Regions from separate parts of the Homo sapiens genome. Here region 1 is linked to region 2. The links come from fine-mapping of genetic effects on gene expression. A gene starts in region 2. The other region holds a variant in brackets. All regions are shown on one strand. Distances are from middle to middle. Region 1 overlaps MFSD8 (major facilitator superfamily domain containing 8). Region 2 holds the start of PGRMC2 (progesterone receptor membrane component 2).

Region 1 (10,641 bases), 350 kb after region 2:
CTTTTCTAAGCTAACATTTTCTATTTTTCTGAAAGTATTTTATTTTCTGAGTTGTAGTCATTTGGTTCTCCCCTTAAGTTCATCATGATATGTAAACCCTTTTAAAGTGGTAGAATACTGAGTGGTCTATATAGAACGGAAGAATTTATAACAGGTTTATTGAGATAATTGTCTATCATCTTTTGTGTTTTTATTATCTTCTTTATGCATTTGACTCTTGTGCCTAGTTTTTTTAAAAAAAATGATTTACAGCGCTAATGGCTGTTTAACGTATAGGGTAGCATAAGTCTAAAGAATTCTATTTACAAGAATTAAAGAATAGCTTATATTATTTTTCATGATGTTATTGCTATATGCGTATATAGTGTGTGTGATTATCTTCTTACCAAGGTTTATATGAACCAAAAATTTCCAGTCATTCTTAAAAATGAGCCTCCCAAGCATTTTTCCCTTGTGTACAGTCTATTGTTAGCACATTTAATTGTATTGTCAGAAGTTTGAATCCCTTACTATAAGTAATAGTGTTATAAAACTTATACGTTAGAATTGTTTTTATTTTTTGATAGGAAATCTTACATGGTATGACAAATGTATTTAGTTTTAAACTTTTCTTGGATAACAATTCTTAAAGCACTGTACCTTTTTCTGCAGATTGATCCGACAGCTGATACAAGTTTTTTGGGCTGGGTTATTGCTTCATATAGTCTTGGCCAAATGGTAGCTTCACCTATATTTGGTTTATGGTCTAATTATAGACCAAGAAAAGAGCCTCTTATTGTCTCCATCTTGATTTCCGTGGCAGCCAACTGCCTCTATGCATATCTCCACATCCCAGCTTCTCATAATAAATACTACATGCTGGTTGCTCGTGGATTGTTGGGAATTGGAGCAGGTAAGGTTGTATGTATATGTTTGGTTGTGTCATATTCACATTCATTCTGACATTTATGGCTCACTTTTAACTGGTCTCATCCCCTTTTAAACTCATATTTCACAGTTCAACATACATGTTTCTCATTGTAAACAAATATTTTTCTTATCATTTTGCCTTTGCTCATGATGTTCTCATTACCTATAGTTTCTCTTCTGTTCTCATCATTCTTCATCCTTCAAGATTCAGTTTAAACCAGGTGTGGTGGCACGTGCCTATAATACCAGCTACTCAGGAGACTGAGGTAGCAGAATCTCTTGAGCCCAGGAGTTCGAGGCCAGCCTGGGTAACATAGGGAGACCTCCATCTAAAAAAAAAAAAACCCAAAACAAAAATAGATCCAATTCAAGCTCCACATTTTCCACAAAGCCATCTTGGGCTACCCTGCCCCTTGAGAGATTTTTTTCTTCTCTGACATGTCTCTGGCACTTGCTTATAGTATTGTACTGTTTCTATCCTTTCTCACTAACCAGATAATAATTTTTTTTTTTTTTTGAAACGGAGTCTTACTCTGTCACCCAGACTGGAATGCAGTGGCGCAATCTTGGCTCACTGCATCCTCTACCTGCCTGGGTTCAAGCAATTCTCCTGCCTCAGCCTCCCGAGTAGCTGGGATTACAGGCGTCTGCCACTGCACCTGGCTAATTTTTGTATTTTTAGTAGAGACGCAGTTTCACCATCTTGGCCAGGCTGGTCTTGAACTCCTGACCTCGTGATCCACTCGCCTCGGCCTCCCAAAGTGCTGGGATTACAGGCATGAGCCACCATTCCCAACCTAAACTTTTTGCAATTAGAAAGAATTAATGATACTTTAAAAATATCCTATGCCCCCTAACAGAGTCTCTTGAATGTAATGTACTCAATGAAAATTTTCAGTAAAATTGTTAGTGCATTTTTTTCTGTTTCTTATATTACATGTCTATGCATACAGAGTTTGTAATATTGTAATACTTTTCTTTTAAAAACAGTTGTAGTAATCAATGGTATGCCATTCACTCAGTGCTTTTTTAGTACTAAGTAAGTTTGATATTCTTTTTTTTTTTTTTTCACTGTTGCCCAGGCTAGAGTGCAGTGGCGTGATCTTGGCTCATTGCAACCTCAGCATCCTGGGTTCAAGCAGTTCTTCTGCCTCAGCCTCCTGAGTAGTTGGGACTACAGGTGGATAATTTTTGAATTTTTAATAGAGACGGGGTTTCACCGTGTTGGCCAGGCTGGTCTTGAACTCCTGACCTCAAAATGATCCACCTACCTCAACCTCTGAAAGTGCTGGGGTTACAGATGTGAGCCACTGTGCCCGGCTTGGTTTTCTTATGATACCATTTTTTCACTCATTGATATCTTTAACTGTTTTCATATTACCAAAACTAGTATGGTCCATTAATTGATGCATTTGCTTAATAAAAATACCTTACATGCTTTGTGTGATCATAAAGAGGAAGCAGTGACTGTACTGTTGACCAAGATTTCTTCTTCTGTATAAAGTCAAATTGGATTGAATTTTATAAGCTGAATGATACTTTCTTTTACTTTGGATTATTGTGTCTTGTTTTTAAGGAAATGTAGCAGTTGTTAGATCATATACTGCTGGTGCTACTTCCCTTCAGGAAAGAACAAGTTCCATGGCAAACATAAGCATGTGTCAAGCATTAGGTTTTATTCTAGGTCCAGGTAGGTGTTCTTCACATGTCATTACTTGAATTTGAATTGGGAAAACTTTTGAGGCTTAAATATTCAGTGTAACCCAAGTATAAAAACTCATAGCTGAAGGGAAAGGGAGGAAAGCTAATTTTTTTTTTAATCCAGGAATGAGGCTACACTCATTTTATCTTGATGCCAATCCACTAAATTAAGTGCTATTAGTCCCCTTTTATAGTTGAGAGTGCCAGTGCATAGAGAATCTAAGTAAATTGTCCAAGGTCACCCTTTTGCTGAGTGTTAAAAAAATTAGTGAGGCCATGCGTGGTGGTCCACACCTGTAATCTCAGCACTTTGGGGGTCTGTGGAAGGCAGATCACCTGAGGTCAGGAGTTTGAGACCAGCCTGGCCAACATGGTGAAACCCCATCTCTACTAAAAATACAAAAATTAGCCAGGTGTGGTGGCGGGCACCTGTAATCCCAGCTACTTGGGAGGCTGAGGCAGGGGAATCGCTTGAACTCGGAGGCAGAGGTTGCAGTGAGCTGAGATCACATCATTGCACTCCAGCTTGGGCAACAAGCGCGAGACTCTGTCTCAAAAAAAATTAATGAGATTTAGTATTTCCTCAAGGCAAATTAATTTTCTGCTGAGTAAAGAATCAGTCATTTTCATGCCTAGAATAATATTGAAAAACCATATAATTGGTCCATATTTTGAATATTGAAGTTATGAATATTATCAGTTTGAATCCAACTCAGCTTACTTCATCATTAACACCCCATCTCCCACCCCCAGTTTCCATTACGTTCCTCTATTTAGCCAAAAAGAAAAGGCTCAACAGAAGGGAATCTAATTCACTGTTCACCAAAATCTACTATTTCAGTTTTGTACCCTGAAACAAATACAAGCACAAATGTAGAATAATTGAACTTGAATACTATATTGTAAAGTACATGAGGACATGGTTTGAGTCTTTATTTACCAGTCTACCCTCAGTATCTAGCATAATACCTGGTATAGACTTATGTTCTTAGTAAATATTTTTTACCACCTTAAAAGCATTTTAAAGATTATGTCATTTAAAAATTTTGCATTATAGATGAGTAAATGTAAGCCTGAAAAGCTTCGATGACTTTTCCAATAATAAGCCCTCAACAAGCACTAACATTTATTGTGTGCTTACTGTATGCTAGTCACTGTTCTAAGTACGGTAGGTGCAATATTTTAGTCCTCACCCTAGAGTTATATGTGAATTACTATAGAGCCACATATTGAATCTAAATCAGAAGAGCAAACCAGTACTCTTCCAATTGAGTTTTTGCCACAGATCCAAATTAGATTTTGCCACTTCATATTTCTTTAGAGTGCTTTATCCAGCAGTCCAAAAACACTTCTAACTAATGTTTAAAATCACTAAAAAAAACTTCAAATACTAAGGTGGATTATGTATGCTTTTGGATGAAATAATTTTTTTTTTTCATTTTACTTGTATATAATACTATGGTCAAATGATAATAAATATATACACACACACACATATATATATATATATATATATACCATATACAGAATAATATTTAAGATATCTGGTCTAAAATATGATATTTTCATTCTTATAATGAAGCTGATTAAACCTTTATAATTAATTTTTGGAAGAAATTGTATAATTTAAATTGCCTATGGAGATGTTTTGTAAAAAACTGAGAAGTTATGTAAGATACAATTCCTTGTGAATGCATGTAAATCAGTGTTTCACAACCTTTTTTTCATTATTGTCTCCCTAAGGAGCCTTTTTCGGTATTTTTTTCCTACTCTCTTTACCCCATAAAATTTTAGTGCCACAGATGTGTCATATATCTTTTATGTACCATATGTATATCTGTACATACCTGCTTTATACATAAAAAGAGGAAATTTTTTGACCCCCCATCAAGAACCAATTCCATCTGTTGAGAATGCATGATATAGAAGGATGATTCCATAACATTGTTCCCAATTCTGTTGTAAATGTCTTTTTCATTTTTTTATCCTATGCTTCTCATATAATAATTCATCTGTGAAAATTTTATCTTAATAAGTTTTTCAGACTTGTTTTACATTCCTTGGAGAAAAAGGTGTGACATGGGATGTGATTAAACTGCAGATAAACATGTATACAACACCAGTTTTACTTAGCGCCTTCCTGGGAATTTTAAATATTATTCTGATCCTTGCCATACTAAGGTAATTAGATAGAAATGATAAAACTATTTTTGTAGATTGTGAAATTTAATGAGCTTTGTAATTGTTGGAAGATAATTATCCTTATGAAGTGTACGTAGTTTTTTATGTCTATAGTTTGTTTATATTTTTTGGTCAGGTAGTACTAAAGCATGTAATACTGGCAACCAAAAGACAACCTGATAAATGAGAACAGAAAAGGAAGGTCTTTGAAGATTCAAAGTTTTTTTTTTTTTTTTTTTTTTTTTTTTGAGACAAGATCTTACTCTGTTGCTCAGACTGGAGGGCAGTGGCACTATCTCGGCTCAATGCAACCTCCATCTCCCGGATTCAAGGATTCTCATACCTCAGCTTCCCGAGTAGCTGGGGCTACAGGTGCATGCCAACACATCCAGCTAATTTTTGTTTCACCATGTTGGCCAGGCTGATCTTGAACTCCTGACCTCAAAGTGATCTGCCCACCTCGGCCTCCCAAAGTGCTGGGATTACAGGCATGAGGCCATGTGAGGCTGTGCCCGGCCTCAAGGTTTGGTCTTGATTTACTAACTACATGTTGCTAAGTAGGGGAAAGGCATGGAAGTAACATTTTAAATAGATTAATGGATTTGTATCAGTCTTAAATATAAAAGTTACTAGTAATGTATATCTCTTATCTTTTATATATTCGAAAAAATTTTTTAAAATTATGTTTTATTTAGAGTGCTTTATTCAATAGTCTAAAAACATTTATTAC[T/C]AATGTTTATAATCACTGTAAAACTTCAAATACTAAAGTAGATCATGTATGCTTTAGGATGAGTTGGATTTTTTTCATTTTACCTGTTTATGATAATTTGATAAGAATTGTAACTTCTGTCTTAAGTTTATTGGTTATATCTCATTGGTAACAGTTTTATTACTGAAAAACCAATAAAAGAAACTATATTAGAATGTGAAAAAAAATACAATGCCGATAATAAATTTAAACAACTTCTCTATTAAGCATTTTATAGGTACAATATTTGTGTTTTTCTTTTTAAGAGAACATCGTGTGGATGACTCAGGAAGACAGTGTAAAAGTATTAATTTTGAAGAAGGTACTTTTAACCCATTTGGCTGAATTAATATAACATTATCAAAGTGTTTCTAATGATTCTGTTTGTTTGGTATTTACTTCGATTTTGCTTCTGAGGACAACACAGTGGGTGATTGGGGAAGATCTTCAAAGCTGAAAGTGACCTAAATTTATTTATTTATTTATTTATTTATTTATTTATTTATTTATTTTTTTTTTTTTGAGACAGAGTTTCGCTCTGTCGCCCAGGCTGGAGTGCAGTGGTGCGATCTCTGCTCACTGCAAGCTCTGCCTCCGGGGTTCATGCCATCCTCCTGCCTCAGCCTCCTGAGTAGCTGGGACTACAGGCGCATGCCGCCACGCCTGGCTAATTTTTTGTATTTTTAGTAGAGATGGGGTTTCACCATGTTAGCCAGGATGGTCTCGATCTCCTGACCTTGTGATCCACCCGCCTCGGCCTCCCAAAGTGCTGGGATTACAGGCGTGAGCAAATTGATTTTTTTTAAAGAGGCATACCCATATTGGTTATTTGGTGGTCATGATTGACAAGGTTACAAACATTGTAAAAAATCGCTTTGTCTTATTTTCAGAGAGCCAGTATCCTAAAGCCTTTGAGATATTTGCAATGATTTCCATATCTTTACTACCAAATAAATATGTCTATTTAAAGCAGTTCTTTATTATCTTAAGTATGAAAATGGGTATGGTTTTGCCTTTTTATTTTTGTTGTTTTGGTATACTTTAGAAATATACATTTTCATCTTTTAGATCTTCTCTGATTCATATAAGCCAGAGAACCCAGTAAGTAGCTATATTTTACCAAAAAAAAACCTGTTATTTAGGTACTAATTATATCCTCCTTGCGGAAAGAATGCAAGGACTGATCCTGGCCCTCAGTAGTTCATAAAGTTGTGGAAAAGACATAGTATTATTTTACTATTTTACCAGGTACTTTCATAGCTCTTTTATTTAATTTTCACAAAAGAAATAGTGGAAGATAAATGTAGTAGAGCAGAGTGGTGAGGAGCTACAGTAAGTTTTTGAACTAGGAGAAGTTTGACATTGATTCCATGCAGAGGCTAATCCAGATTGGTTATATCTCACTGGTAATATCTCATTGGTAACAATTTCATTACTGAAAAGCCAGTAAAAGAAACTGTATCAAATGTGAAAAAAATACAATGCCAGTAACAAATTTAAACAATTTCTTTATTAAGCTTTTCATAGGTACAATATTTGTGTTTTTCTTTTTAAGAGAACATTGTGTGGATGACTCAGGAAGACAGTGTAAAAGTATTAATTTTGACTAGGCCTGAAGTAGGGCAGTGACTGAGAATGGAGAAGGGATAAGTAGGAGTTGTTGAAAGAGGAATCAAGATAGAGATTTGGATAGAGAATATTAAGGATTAGAGAAAGCCAACATTGCTGCCAGGTTTTGATTCTAGATCACCTGGAAGAATGAGAGAGAACAAGAATTTAGGAAGGGAGGTTAGATGAAAAGAGAAGATGATTTCAATTTGGATCAAGCTGAATATGCTGTTACTCTAGAACAACTAAAAAATCCCACAGGCATTTGTAATTTTGACAGTAGAAATAAAAGCTAGAGATAAAAATTTATGAGTCACCCAGTGAAACACACTATGGCAGCAGAAAGGGAGTGAGAGAAAGGATGGCATGATGATTCAAGTGTGGCAAAAGATTGTTGAATCTGAGGAATGAATATGTGAGAATATGTTTGAAAACTTTCAAAATAAAACACAAAGAATGAGAGGTGAAGTGCCAGCAGTGCGTATAAACTCCTTTTTTCAAAGGTAAAAAATAGGATGCTAACTTCAAGGAGCTATCAGGTAAAGTGACGGAGGAAGTTAAGAGGGTGAGGTAGAGGTATGACAAAGGGAAGATATGTAAAAATCAGTATTTCAGAACTTGGAAGGGGATAATGATATACATCAGTGCTTCATTTACTTTAATGTGCTTAGAAATCACCTGGGAACCTTGTTAAGATGCAAATTCTGATTCATTAGGCTTAGGGTGATACTTAATAGGGTTGCCTGTAAAACACAGGATGTTGCTTCTCAGAATAGGGGAGTTAATAAAGAAATATAAAAATATATAATTTATAATAAAAAATAAAACACAGAATGCCCAATTAAATTTTAATAATGTTTTAATATAAATATGTCCCACCCAGTTAAATTTGGATTTCAATAAACAACAAATAACGTTGGTTTTTTTTTCTTTAATAGAGACAGGATCTTGCCATATTGTCCAGGCTGGCCTTAAACTCCTGGACTCAAGTGATCTGCCTCCCTGGGCCTCCCAAAGTGCTAGGATTACAGGTGTGAGCCACTGCACCTGGAAACAAATAACTTTTAGTATTAATACAATCCAGCTGGGCACAGTGGCTCATGCCTGTAATCCCAGCACTTTGGGAGGCCAAAGCAGGTGGATCACCTGAGGTCAGGAGTTCAAGACCACCCTTGGCCAACATGGTGAAACCCTGTCTCTGCTAAAAATATAAATATTAGCTGGGTGTGATGGCAGGCGCCTGTAATCCCAGCTACTCATGAGGCTGAGGCAGGAGAATCGCTTGAACCTGGGAGGCAGAAGTTGCAGTGAGCCGATATCACGCCACGTACTCCAGCCTGGGTGACAGAGTGAGGCTCTGTCTCAAAAAGAAAAAAAAAAAGTATAAATACAATCCAAATACTTCATGGAACATTCTTATACTTAACTTTCAAATATGGCACAGAACATATTTATATTAACACTTATTGTTTATCTGAAATTTAAATTTAACTGGGTCTCCTGTATATTTACTAAATCTGGCAACCCTAGTGAGATGCTGAGCATCTACATTTACAACAAACTACCATGTGATGTGATGCTTCTGGTCTACAAATCACACTTTGTGCAGCAAAGATTGAGAGCTATGCTGCCCAATATAGTAGCCATTAGCCACATGTGGCTATTTAAATAAAGTAAATTTAAGAAATTATTTTCTGTCATACTAGCCACATTTCAAGTGCTCAATAATGGGTATATGTGGCTAGTGGCCACTGTATTAGCATAGATAAATAACATTTCCGTCATGTCACAGTTCTGTTGGGCAGCACTGTTCTAAAGTACAAATGGGAATGAGTTTAGAGAAGATGTAGTGTTTTCTTTTATGAGATTTCTAGTTACTTCAAAATAATTTTTATAAAATAAAATTTTTAAATTTCAATAAATGTTTGCATAAAATATGTCTGGTAAAAACTTCCATAATTGTTTTAATTTAAAGCTATTCAAATTTAAAGAGGTTATTATGAGACAGGATTATAATTTCTAATTGCATAGAATTTGAATCCATATACTAATGTAGTCTTTTAAAAAATGTGTAATTAGGATATCTAGTCAATCCCCATAGTCTAGGATGCAACATTTCTGAGATACCCCACTGAAGCCAACACTGAGTAGAAGCTATAGGAAACTAACCACATATTATGAAGCAAACTCCAGTCTGACTTGGGGCAATATTGATACTGACTTGAAGGAGTAAAGACTGACTTCTAGGTGGTGATTAAGAATCAGAGAGGTCTATCCAAAATAGTACAAGAGCCACAACCATCAGGGCCTACCCCTGGCAAAGGTTCTGGACAAAGGTGGCCAGTTCTCTTTGTGTGATTACAAAGGAAGGTCATAAGGCTATGTTGAGCATCCAAGGTGCTTAATTCCCTTTAAGTATAGCAGACTATTTCCAAATCTACTTATTGTTGGAGGAGGAACTCCTTCTCAAGAATCCTGAGATAGAAAAGCAGGCATTATTATGAAAAAAATCATAGAAACTTACTGCATCTTAGGAAAGCCCCCCCACCCACCCACTAACAACAACTGACACTACACACAATTTAAGATAGCATAAATAAACATATTTTTGTAATATTTTATGTATTAATACCTGGCATAGGCTGGGCGTGGTGGCTCACACCTGTAATCCCAGCACTTTGGGAGGCCGAGGCGGGCAGATCACGAGGTCAAGAGATTGAGACTATCCTGGCCAACATGGTGAAACCCCATCTCTACTAAAAATACAAAAATAGCTGTAGTCCCAGCTACTCGGGAGACTGAGACAGGAGAATCGCTTGAACCCGGGAGTTGGGGGTTGCATTGAGCAGAGATCGGGTCTCTGCACTCCAGCCTGGCAACAGAGCAAGACTCCGTCCCCCCCGCCAAAAAAAAAAAAAAAAAATACCTGGCTTATTTTGGTATTTATTTGTGTAAAAATACTATTTTATTCTGAATAAGTGGATAAATTACAAAACAGTGTGATGAATATATATGAGTAGATTAATATGTCTGCATGATTCTCAGTTACATCAAGAATAGCTTAATGTGTATTAACCTTAAGGCGTTGTTCAAGATGAGAAGTCAGTACACTTACTTTGTCCTCCTTATTTATAAAACCACCGTCAAATCCTGATTATTTCTTTGCAGAAATATAAATGATAGGGGTTTTTAAAATGGTAATGATAACATAAGGATCTTTACGAATACTAATTTCTTGTTATTTATTTATTTATTTTTTGAGACAGGGTCTCTGTCACCCAGGCTGAAGTGCAGTGGCTCAATCTTGGCTCACTGCAACCTCAGTCTCCTGGTTAAAGCAATTCTCGTGCCTCAGCCTCTCAAGTGGCTGAGATTACAGGCATGTGGCACCACGCCCGGCTAATTCTTTTTTGTATTTTTAGTAGAGATGGGGTTTTGCCATGTTGGCCAGGCTGGTCTCAAACTTCTGACCTCAGGTGATCCACCTGCACTGG
Region 2 (10,641 bases):
ATTCTCCTGCCTCAGCCTCCCAAGTAGCTGGGATTACAGGTGTCCACCACCACACCCAGCTAATTTTAGTAGAGACAGGGGTTTCACCATGTTGGCCAGGCTGATCTGGAACTCCTGAGCTCAGATGATCCACCCACCTCAGCCTCCCAAAGTGCTGGGATTACAGGCATGAGCCACCATGCCCAGCCTATAAACAACTTATTATTGTGGAAAAGAATAATAGAGTAAGCAATAAAATATATTTGGGCACAAAATACATTAAAATAAAATTATGTTAGGGAAGTAGAATGAAAATACAAATTCAAATAGGAAAAGGCATAATGTAAAATTTCTGTGAAAATAAATGATGGTGAGTATTCCTTTTCTATGGATTTAGATTTCATTTAGATTGCATTTTAGGTAACATAACCCTTTTTATTTTAAAATATTCACATTTATATTACGCAAAAAATTACATGTTTTGCCACTAAGGTCAAAATATTTTACATGTCAACTTAAAAACTATTTTAGGGGTGTGTCAGCAAAAGTATGAAGACCATTACCTTAACCCTGTGGGCTTATCCACTGAGATTAGGCTGGGATACAGTTACTTCCTTGGGTGAGAAGTCAGCAGTCAATTGTAGTAGTCGTGCTCCCATCTTCATGAGACCACTTCTCCAATACTGATTTCACCTCTTTTGCAGGATGTCCTGGGGCCACTAGTAAACTGTAGAGTCTGTCCCCAAAATGCCCTGAATGGGTCAGAACAATTTATCGATTAAATCAGTTCCAATGCTATTCTGTATCCAAGGCTGTAATTCACAATATGTTCTATCGCCATCTCAAACTATGTCCTGTCAGCTTGCCCAAAGTTATCAGAATTTCTAAAATGTGATCAAATACTTTAATAACTAAGAACCAACAAGATGTTCTCAATTTGATTTTAACCCTCTCCCAGTATTAATTTTCCAGAGAGAAATTAAAAGTTCAGAGATTAAATCACTCTGTCCTTCTAAATTATGGCCCAAAGTAATCAGTACCAACTTCATGTTAAAGTCCAAATCATTAATGGCCAACATTGAACTCTTTTACTCTGTGAATTAAAGTTCAAACAGGCTTTGTCACTCCCTGGAAGTGAACTTAGCTCCAAACCTGAAATTTCCCTTCCCCCGGGGAGCTGATGCTGTTTGGCTTACCCCAAGCCTCCCCTGGCAGGAGCAAGCTCCTTTGAAACTTGTGTGAGGTAGCAGAGGAGAAAGCACACTTTCCATGAGCAGGATGGCTCCCAAGAGAAAGTGGAGAGGAAGAAGGTGGGCTGCCCACGAGCCAAACTTAAACATCGGGAAACTCACTGGTGGCACTCAAACAGAGCATCAAATGATATGTTCGTGGCACTCCAATGTTTCAAGAAAAATGTGATATGGAAAAAAAAAAAAAGTTTTTCCCTAAAATAGGGAAAAATTACAAGAAACAATCTCTCTTATTTAAGAATTATTTATTGAATATCATGGTGCAAACTTCTGAGCTAGGTTCACTGGGAAATGCATAAGTGAGTCAAAGCTGGATGCTGCCTAACAACCAACCACTAGTATTTCTAACTCAATTATTATATATGTCAGTGACTCATATTTTAGATTTTTGTTATAGCACCACCCTATTTCCAGTACCAATTTTTATATTAGTATGCAAAAGTTGATACCAAACAACTCCAAATAGCTAAGTGACTCAGGACAGCAGAGATGTATTTCTTATTCATATACCTAGGTATGTTATTTGGGAGCTGTTTTCCACTTTGTCCTGTCTCCGAGACCCTGGCTGATGGAAGCCCACTCAATTTGAAACATCGTTGGAGTAGTGATTAAAGATGGCCACATTTTCCTGTAACTCTGTGGTTGACAAAAATTTTTGTAATAAAGATGGCCACAAATTCTTTGTCACTCTCCCTCCACCCCTATCAAGTGTTTATTTCCTCTCCCCTTAAAATTGAGCTGGCCCTGTAACTGCTTTTACCAATACAACATGTCATTTCCAGACCTAAGACTTACAAAACCTCGAAGTTTTTGCTTTTATTGCATTTGAGAATCCTAAGCCACCATGCAAGAAAGAAGTCAGGCTACTCTGCTGAAGAAGCCATGTGAATCAGAGAGTCTTTGGAACGGCATGGGTAAATAGAAAAGCTCAGCTACTCTAGCAACCTAGTTGAGCCTCCAAAAACTCCAGCCCCAAACAATACCAGGCTGGAACCACATGAGAGACCCTGAGCAAGATTAGACAACTGCCCATGAGCCTAGTCAACCCACAAAACTGTTACACATAATAAAATGGTGACTGTTTTAAACCATTAAGATTTAAGGTGCTTTGTCATGGGACAATAGATAATTAAAATATTTCATCACTGTTGGCAGGAAGAAACAGCGCAGGATAAATGTCCACAGGCTCTTAAAGCTTTTATTTGGAAATGACACAAGTCACTTCCAATCACATTTCATTGGCCATTCTTGAGGTAAAAGGAGTAGGGAAATCCAAATCTACGTGTGTGGAAAAAGAAATAGAAATATTTGGTGGCTAGTACTAATATCTTCCAGAGATTTACAAGTAAATCAGTAAATAGATGAAGTGTCAGGGGAAAAAAGCTAACAACAGGAGAAAAGAATGTACATGACGATTCTTGTAGATGTCCTCTAGGCAAAGCAGGGATGTAAGAGGAAAAGGAGGGTAGAAAGAAGTCAAAAATAAAAAAAATAAAAAAGCATCCGCAGGGAAAAAGTAGAAATCTTGGGATCTAAAGGACAGTTTCAATAACAGAATAGTCAAGAAGAGCATAAAATAAAAGGCCAAAATGGGTGGTACAGGTAAGGAACACACAGAAATTCAAAGAAGGTAGGTTAATGTGGGCTGATAGAGGCCTCAGGTGGAAGTAGAATTGAAAGAATGGATAGGTCATGGAATTTGTATGGTTAGAAATAAGAAGGGCATGCTCCGTGAGGAAACAGCATGAGTCAAGTCCTAGACTGTGCAATACACATAGCATATATGGGGCAAGGGACTAGGTATTGTAAGGGGAAACGTATCATTTAATAGAGGGTATCCAAGGGATTGTTTGCTGGGGAACGGGAAGGCAGGGAAGCCACTCAGGGACTTATGGAGGCCCTTGAGTGCTTTCTGAGTTGTCCTCTTCAAATTACAGAGCACCCCTGGAGATTGGTGTCTGAGCAAAGGAAATCAGAACACAGTTCTAGTCTCTTCGTGTAGGAATGAAATAGGAAAAGACTGACGGCAAGTCACCAATTGGAAAGTTATTGCAGTACTCAAAGCAAGAGTATCCTATTGGGACAAGAGCTTGTTACTTAGGGTGGAAAATAAGAACTTCCAACTAGTCCAGTTCAAGGGGCTTACAATGAGAATCAAAAAAGCTGGGGTTTTGGGAAGGCTTCAAGTGTGAAGAAGTCGAGACACTATTTTATCAAGGATATAAAGGAAAACTTTTTTACTTCACGTGGCAGCCAATGTTGGTTAGCTACCCAACATTCCCCAGCCCACTTCCTTGACAGCAGAACTTTAATACTGTCCAATTCCTCTCTTCCCTCCAAACCAACTGGAAAAGAAACCTACACACACTAATTCAGCCCCAAGGTAAATCCTGAGGGTCTAAGCTACTGGTTCTCAACCAGTACCACACCTCTGGGGGGTGGGAGGGAAAAACGGTTGATTTACGGTGTCACAATGCCTGAGGTGTGGTACTGACATTTAGCTGGAAGGAACCAGAGATGGTAAATGTCCAGCAATGCTCAACACAGTCCTGAATAAGAATTAAAAAAGCCAGATAAACACTAGGCAATCATGGATGTCCCATGCTCCTTGTCTGTTACTGCTTTAGGGACAGCTAATAGCCCAGTTCTGGTCAATAAGATATAAGGAGTGGCCTGCTTCTGGGGTGCTTTCTTCCTTCCTATCAATGTTGTCTCAACTGTATACAGCTCTTGGGACTGCTACAGCTATCTTCTCCTCAAAACCAGTTTCTTCTTTATCTTCCTATTTCCATCACTGGCACCTCCCATTTTCTGTTACCAAGTCCTAAAGCAATTTTGACTTCTCCTAACCCTTAACCTTAAGGTGACTATTCCTTTAGGTTTGCCTGGGATAAAACTGATATAACTCCTGGTCTCTGGCTATAATTATTAATGCCCTACTTTACTTCCAAAAGTGTTCCATATTGAAGGATAGAGTATATGGTCATTTACTACCAATTGTGTCGCTCTCCCTCAGGTACCTCTAATGCAGGGCTCAGCAATATGGCTTATAAGTTGTTTTTGCACCTCTCCAGAACTAAAAAAAAAAAAATTTACATATTTCAATGATTTTCTTAAAAATCAAAAGAATATTTCATACCTGAAATTATATTAAAAATTCAATGTCCATAGTTTTACTGAAGACAGCTACACTCATTCAAGTATTGTCTATGGCTGCTTTCTCGTTACAAGGTAGAGCTGAGTAGTTAAGGCAGAGACTTAAAATATGATCGGGCCCTTTACAAAAAATGTTTGCCAACCCCTGCTCTAATGTCTCCCCTAGCTCTGAGTCTCCTCACCTCACGCACAAATACCCTAGCCTACTAACTGCTTTCCCACTCTTTCCCCAGCCTCTAATCCTTCAGACACCTGGTTGCTATACAGCCTCTCTACAAGAGTGTCGACCCTGTCACTTGCCTCGTCAATATCCTCAGTGACTCCTACAAAACCGACAGTGAAAGGTTCAAACCTATTCTATGAGACTCAAGACAACAGACAACAAAGGGCAAGAGAGAACACGTCAAACGAGTTCGTCAAACGAGTTGAGTGCGTGAGACTTCAGAGGTCACTTTTTCACACTAGAATTTCAAGGTGTGAGAGGCTAAAAGACGTCCAAGTACATGAAACAGAACCTGCAAATAAGAGTGAATGACGAATAGAAAGACCACCTCAACCTGTCCACTTCCCTACGGCCGCAGAAGTTATGATTCAAGGAATAATGAGACTCTAAATCCTTTAAAATTCTACAAGAGCAGCCTTTGCCAAACCCAGCGGGGAGTGGCTGCTCGGTGCCAGCGCGAGGAGCACGTAGACTGCCGATGCCAGAGAAGCCCGGTGCGGGTTCCGTGCTTTCTCTCCGTTCCAGGAAGACCCCAGCTCGTGGCCAAATCTTCTTGCCGCTTCCCGGTCTGCGCGCCTACGCTGCCGGTTTCCCGACAAAAGCGACGGCGCCCTGGTGAAAAGCAGACGCCCCTCATCGGTTTGCGCCTTGCAGCTCAACTATGCCCCAGCCTCCCACAAGCCACCTGCCCGCGTCCTCCGCCAGGCGTCCAGCCCGGACCTGCCCCCGCGGCCGCCAAGGCGCACGTGAAGCTCCCGGGCGGGGGGAGCGCAAGGAGGCGGGAGTTTGCGGACGCGAACGCAGGCCTAGGAAGGGAAGCGATTCCAGGGCGCACGCGCAGAGCCTGGAGACTGGGCGGGGCGTGCCTCCCGCAGGGGTTACGAACGAAAGGCGAGCGCGTGGCGCTCAGGAGCCCGCGCACGCGCTGTGGTCTCGCCCCGCCCATGAGCGTCCGCGCGGCCGTCGTAGCATCTTTTCTTCAGACCCGCCCGGCTCGTCTACTTAACCTAGCGGAGGCTTGGAGTGAGAGCAGGGAAGTGTGGGGCGAGGTGGGCGGGGCGTTGCACGCGTGCGCGGCCAGCGAAAGAAGGGAGGGGGCGGGAGATCCGAGACAACGTTACCCCGTCAACACCCAATCAGGAGCCGGCCTGACCCCGCCCCCTCTTCTCACGTTATTGGCTGAGAGGCCCCCAGATGGGCGGGGCCGGCCGTGGGGTTGGGGAGGGCAGGGGGCGGGGAGGAGGAGGAAGGCGCTGGCGGGCAGTGATGGCGGCTGGTGATGGGGACGTGAAGCTAGGCACCCTGGGGAGTGGCAGCGAGAGCAGCAACGACGGCGGCAGCGAGAGTCCAGGCGACGCGGGAGCGGCAGCGGAAGGGGGAGGCTGGGCGGCGGCGGCGTTGGCGCTTCTGACGGGGGGCGGGGAAATGCTGCTGAACGTGGCGCTGGTGGCTCTGGTGCTGCTGGGGGCCTACCGGCTGTGGGTGCGCTGGGGGCGGCGGGGTCTGGGGGCCGGGGCCGGGGCGGGCGAGGAGAGCCCCGCCACCTCTCTGCCTCGCATGAAGAAGCGGGACTTCAGCTTGGAGCAGCTGCGCCAGTACGACGGCTCCCGCAACCCGCGCATCCTGCTCGCGGTCAATGGGAAAGTCTTCGACGTGACCAAAGGCAGCAAGTTCTACGGCCCGGGTGAGGAGTTGGAAGGGGAGGGGAAGGACCCCCTGCAGCTGAAGCACAACCCCCTTCGGACAGGGAGGCCTCTGGGCACCGGGTTAGTTTGCCCAGCCTTCTCGTCTCCGGGACCCCCGCGCCTCGGCCGCCGCACCTGGGACGGCCCATCCCGCCCCTACACACACACCGTCCCCCCGCAGCTACGGGCACCTCCAGTTCTTCCCCCGAAACCAGGGTCCCCGGTGGCGCCCCAGAGACCAGCTCTCAGCATTCATCTTTCTTCCATCCCATTTCTCCTCGCAGCCTTTTTTTTTTGTTTCTTTGGCTGGATTTTTCAAAATCGTTTTAGTTGTCACAGGTCAACGCTGGCCCTTAACCTTTTTTGAGTCTCCTGATTCCTGGGATGGATGGGGCACCAGGGAAGGGAGATTTCTGAAGTTGGGACCTAAACTAAAGTTTTGGGCTCTGTAATTCACCGTTTTCTTTTCCTTGCCCCCTTTTTTTTTTTTTTTGCCACTGATCTCCTTTTTTCCCTCGCTGTATTACTCCGTAAGGCCACGTTTAGGGGCATGTAAAGTCCCAACCCTCCAGTCTCTGAAGTCCAGACGTATAAGCAACACCTCGGACTCTCTTTAAACCAGTTTTAGTTCGGAGTTGCTTTCCATGATTAACAAGGTATGTGGGATGAGAACAGACCAGAATGCAGAGCTTATTAAAGACTGGTAAGGATATTCACCTTGAGTTTTGGGGGTGGAGCTCCTATACCCAGCAGGCGTGTCTCTGGTTTCTTTTTTCTTTTTTTTTCTCTTTTCAAGTACACGTTGATAATGACTTGTGTTTTCACTTAGCAGAACTAAGGAGAAAAAACTTAGAAGAGTTGTAGATTTATACCCCCATGTGCCAGTTATGCAAGTTAAAGATTTTTAGAACTTTGTTTTGAGAGAACTTTGTTTTCAGGGAACTTTGTGTAGGGTAGTTGATTTAGACGCCCTTTTTTTACAGTGTGGTTGTAGCATACATTTTGGATTATGTTAATAAACCCCAGACTCATGGAACCTGTTGGTATATCATACAGTTGAGCAACATTGTGCATCCTGGTTGTGCACTGATTAATACTAAGCTTTAAAAAAAAGTGGTGACTACAATAAGAATAAATAATTAAATTAGAGACCTAAAGTGACCTGTTATTGGAGAGAGTACCTCCAAGCCTTAAAGTCATAGGGTTGGCAGTCTGGAAGTAAGCTGGTTTTCTCCTTAATTTAATCTGTAGGTGTATAAGATTTATTGACACTTAAAAATATATACTTCTGATTTCAGTGCTTGATAGCTGGAAGATATTTTAGAAGTGCTTTGGTTTGTAGTTTGTTCATTGGAATAGGGATAAGAAATAGGAGATTTTTGGTGTTGAATTATGTAATTTATTTCTTAGTTGTTTGTACTTCTGTGTATATATACACATTTAATCCAACCAAGTAAATACATAGCTTACAGAGTTTTTGCTTCTGGTTACATAAATGTGAACACAAGGTGTCTGCCTACTTATATCAACTGAAATGGTTAATACATTTTTGTTTACTTAAGCACACGTGGGACAAGAGAACAGGGCCAAAGTACAGTATTTAAACAGGCCAAGCGAAGTAAATTTTTTTTAAATCAAGGATTTAGACAGCATTTTATACCTAGTTCAAGCTTTTCCCCCATTGGTATTAAAATGTGTTAAGTGATTAGAAATCCTGTACAGGTTTAAATTTTTAATATAGACCTTACCCAGCTAAAAGATCAGCTTTTGTACCCTGTCTGAACTGCCACTGAAGAAAACAAAGTATTAGTACAAAGAATCGTATTAGTCCTCACACATTATGCCTTGGCAGTATCTGAAAATAGCTAAGAGAGACAGTCATAGAAACAGTTTGGCAGCCTCCAGTGGCAAACGTTTGTTCTGTGATAGAAATTAAAAATTAAAGCCAGGCGTGGTGGTTCATGCCTGTAATCCCAGTGCTTTGGGAGGCCGAGGCGGGTGGATCACCAGAGGTCAGGAGTTCGAAACCAGCCTGGCCAATATAACAAAACCTCGTCTCTACTAAAAATACAAGAAAATCAGCTAGACGTGGTGGCGGGTGCCTGTAATCCCAGCTACTCGGGAGGCGGAGGCAGGGAGAGTTGCTGGAACCCGGGAGGTGGGGGTTGCAGTGAGCCGAGATTGCGCCATTGCACTCCAGCCTGGGCGACAGAGAGAGACTCGGTATAAAAAAAAATTAAAAATTAAGAGTCATAGGTGGTAGATTGCTTTTTTATGGTATGTGCACTGAGGGAGGCTCTTGAGATTACAATGGAGAAGTCAGTTTTAGATTAGTTTCTGCCAGTTCCTAGGTTCTGTTGAACAGCCTAAGAGTGATATACAGTTAGTATTCTACAGTTGATCAACAACATAACAGATATTTGAATATTTTATTATTGAAAGGAACCTTAAAGAAAGCCAGATCATTTTATGGGCTTAGAATATGTTGATATTGCATATTAATAGAAAATGTAATAAGTAGTACTTTTCAAAAAATCTTAAAGCCAAATTTCTGGCTATAAAACAGATACAAGTTCAGTTTTGCTTTTAATTTTTATTTTCATCCTCATAAATTAAGCAGTTTTGTAGCAGAATAATTCAGAAGCAGTAATTGTTAGTTTCTATGCCTAGCCAATATCTACCCTAATTTCACAATAATGGTTTTAGGATTAAATTTTGTGAGATTTTTCCATAATGCTAAACATGTGTTTATTTTTAGTCATACATTTTTAAAGTTCAGGCTCTTAATTAAATATTGACAGTGTAATTTGGTGGAGTATACACATTTTGGCAAACAGTTGGCATTAACTGTATTTGCCAATATTAAATTTAGTAACAGATCAGGCACTTGGCCAGCAGGTGAGGAAAGTTTGGTCATGTAAAAAACTGAATACAGGAGGAGAAAGAAAACCAGATTCGTTAAGCACCCACAATATCAGATCCATTAATTTTTTTATCTCCATAATTCCTCAGTGAAGTTGGTAAGTATTCCTGCTCTACAGGTGGGGAGTCTGAGGTCTAGGTATTTTAGGTAAATTGGCTTGGATTACATGTATGTCTAATAAATCCAGATGGATATTACCACACAGCTTATCTATACTATTTCTAGTAAACTGCATCCTGTGATAAACTTGTAGAGAATCTTACTGTTGTTTTTCTTTATACTCTTCCCTGGTTCCCATAAATCCAAGGATTTAAAGCCTCAAAAAAAACATGCCTTTCGGCCAGGCACGGTGGCTCACGCGTGTAATCCCAGCACTTTGGGAGGCTGAGGCAAGCGGATCACTTGAGGTCAGGAGTTTGAGACCAGACTGTCCAACATGGTGAAACCCCATCTCTACTAAAAAAAAAAAAATAAAAATAAAAAAATAAAGGCCAGGCACGGTGGCTCATGCCTTAATCCCAGCACTTTGAGAGACCAAGGCGGGCAGATCACCTGAGGTCAGGAGTTCGGGACCAGCCTGGCCAACATGGCCAAACCCTGTTTCTACAAAAATACAAAAAAAAATTAGCTGAGCTTGATGGTGGGTGCCTGTAATCCCAGCTACTGGGGAGGCTGAGGCAAGAGAATCACTTGAACCTAGGAGGTGGAGGTTGCAGTGAGCTGAGATCTCGCCATTGCACTCCAGCCTGGATGACAGAACGAGACTCTGTCTCAAAAAAAAAAAAAAAATGCTTTTATGGCTTTATGTTATACTGCCCAAAATGGTGGCCCCAGGTGGCTAATTAAAAGTAAATTAATTAAAATTAGATATAATTAAAAATTGAGTTCCTTAGTAACACTAGCCACATATAAAGTGCTGAGCCCACCATGGCTACCATTTTGGACAGTGCACTTTGTATATTTTCATATTGTGAGACTGGCGTGCCACCTACTGCACTAACAAGGCACCTCTTAGAGTATTTCTGTCTTCCCAGAGAGTTGTTGAAAACAACACTGATTCTAAAGGTCAGAGGAGGAGAAGGAGGAAACTCCATTTATTGAGCTTAGTATCGCTAATTTTCAAACAGCCCTATGAGATTGCCCAAAGCCACATATCTAGTAGGTGGCAACACTAAAAATTAAATCCAGATTTTCATAGCTTCAATCCTTCCCATTGTATTACAACATAGTCTATTCAGTTTCACATGTTTACAGAATCATAAGTTTTGAAGACTCAAACAGCTAGTATAATTTTTAACAATTTTATTTAATATTACTGCAATGGAACTTTACCAAAACAGTGCTTTTATTTTTTTGGAATGGCAAAAAATTATACACTTGACTTTTTGATAGTTTATTTTGCGTTGTTGAACCTTGCAATACTGC

The links. PIP is the estimated chance that this variant, and not a neighbour inherited with it, causes the effect.
Region 1: its variant is the best candidate, but not a certain one, in a credible set for the expression of PGRMC2 in whole blood (INTERVAL, PIP 0.55).

Annotation. Positions count from the first base shown.
Region 1 is chr4:127,934,003-127,944,643 of GRCh38, reverse strand. It overlaps MFSD8 (major facilitator superfamily domain containing 8), which reads left to right. Exons shown (of 12, transcript NM_001371596.2): 4 at 652-892; 5 at 2,486-2,599; 6 at 4,647-4,791; 7 at 5,806-5,861. Among named protein-coding and RNA genes, the nearest start is that of MFSD8, 26 kb to the left of the region's middle. The variant T/C (reference allele first, on the strand shown) is at 5,522.
Region 2 is chr4:128,283,024-128,293,664 of GRCh38, reverse strand. It overlaps PGRMC2 (progesterone receptor membrane component 2), which reads left to right and starts at 5,852. Exons shown (of 3, transcript NM_006320.6): 1 at 5,852-6,292. The coding sequence starts at 5,875. RefSeq lists silencers at 4,557-4,851, 5,223-5,412, 5,733-5,912, 5,923-5,972, 6,153-6,212.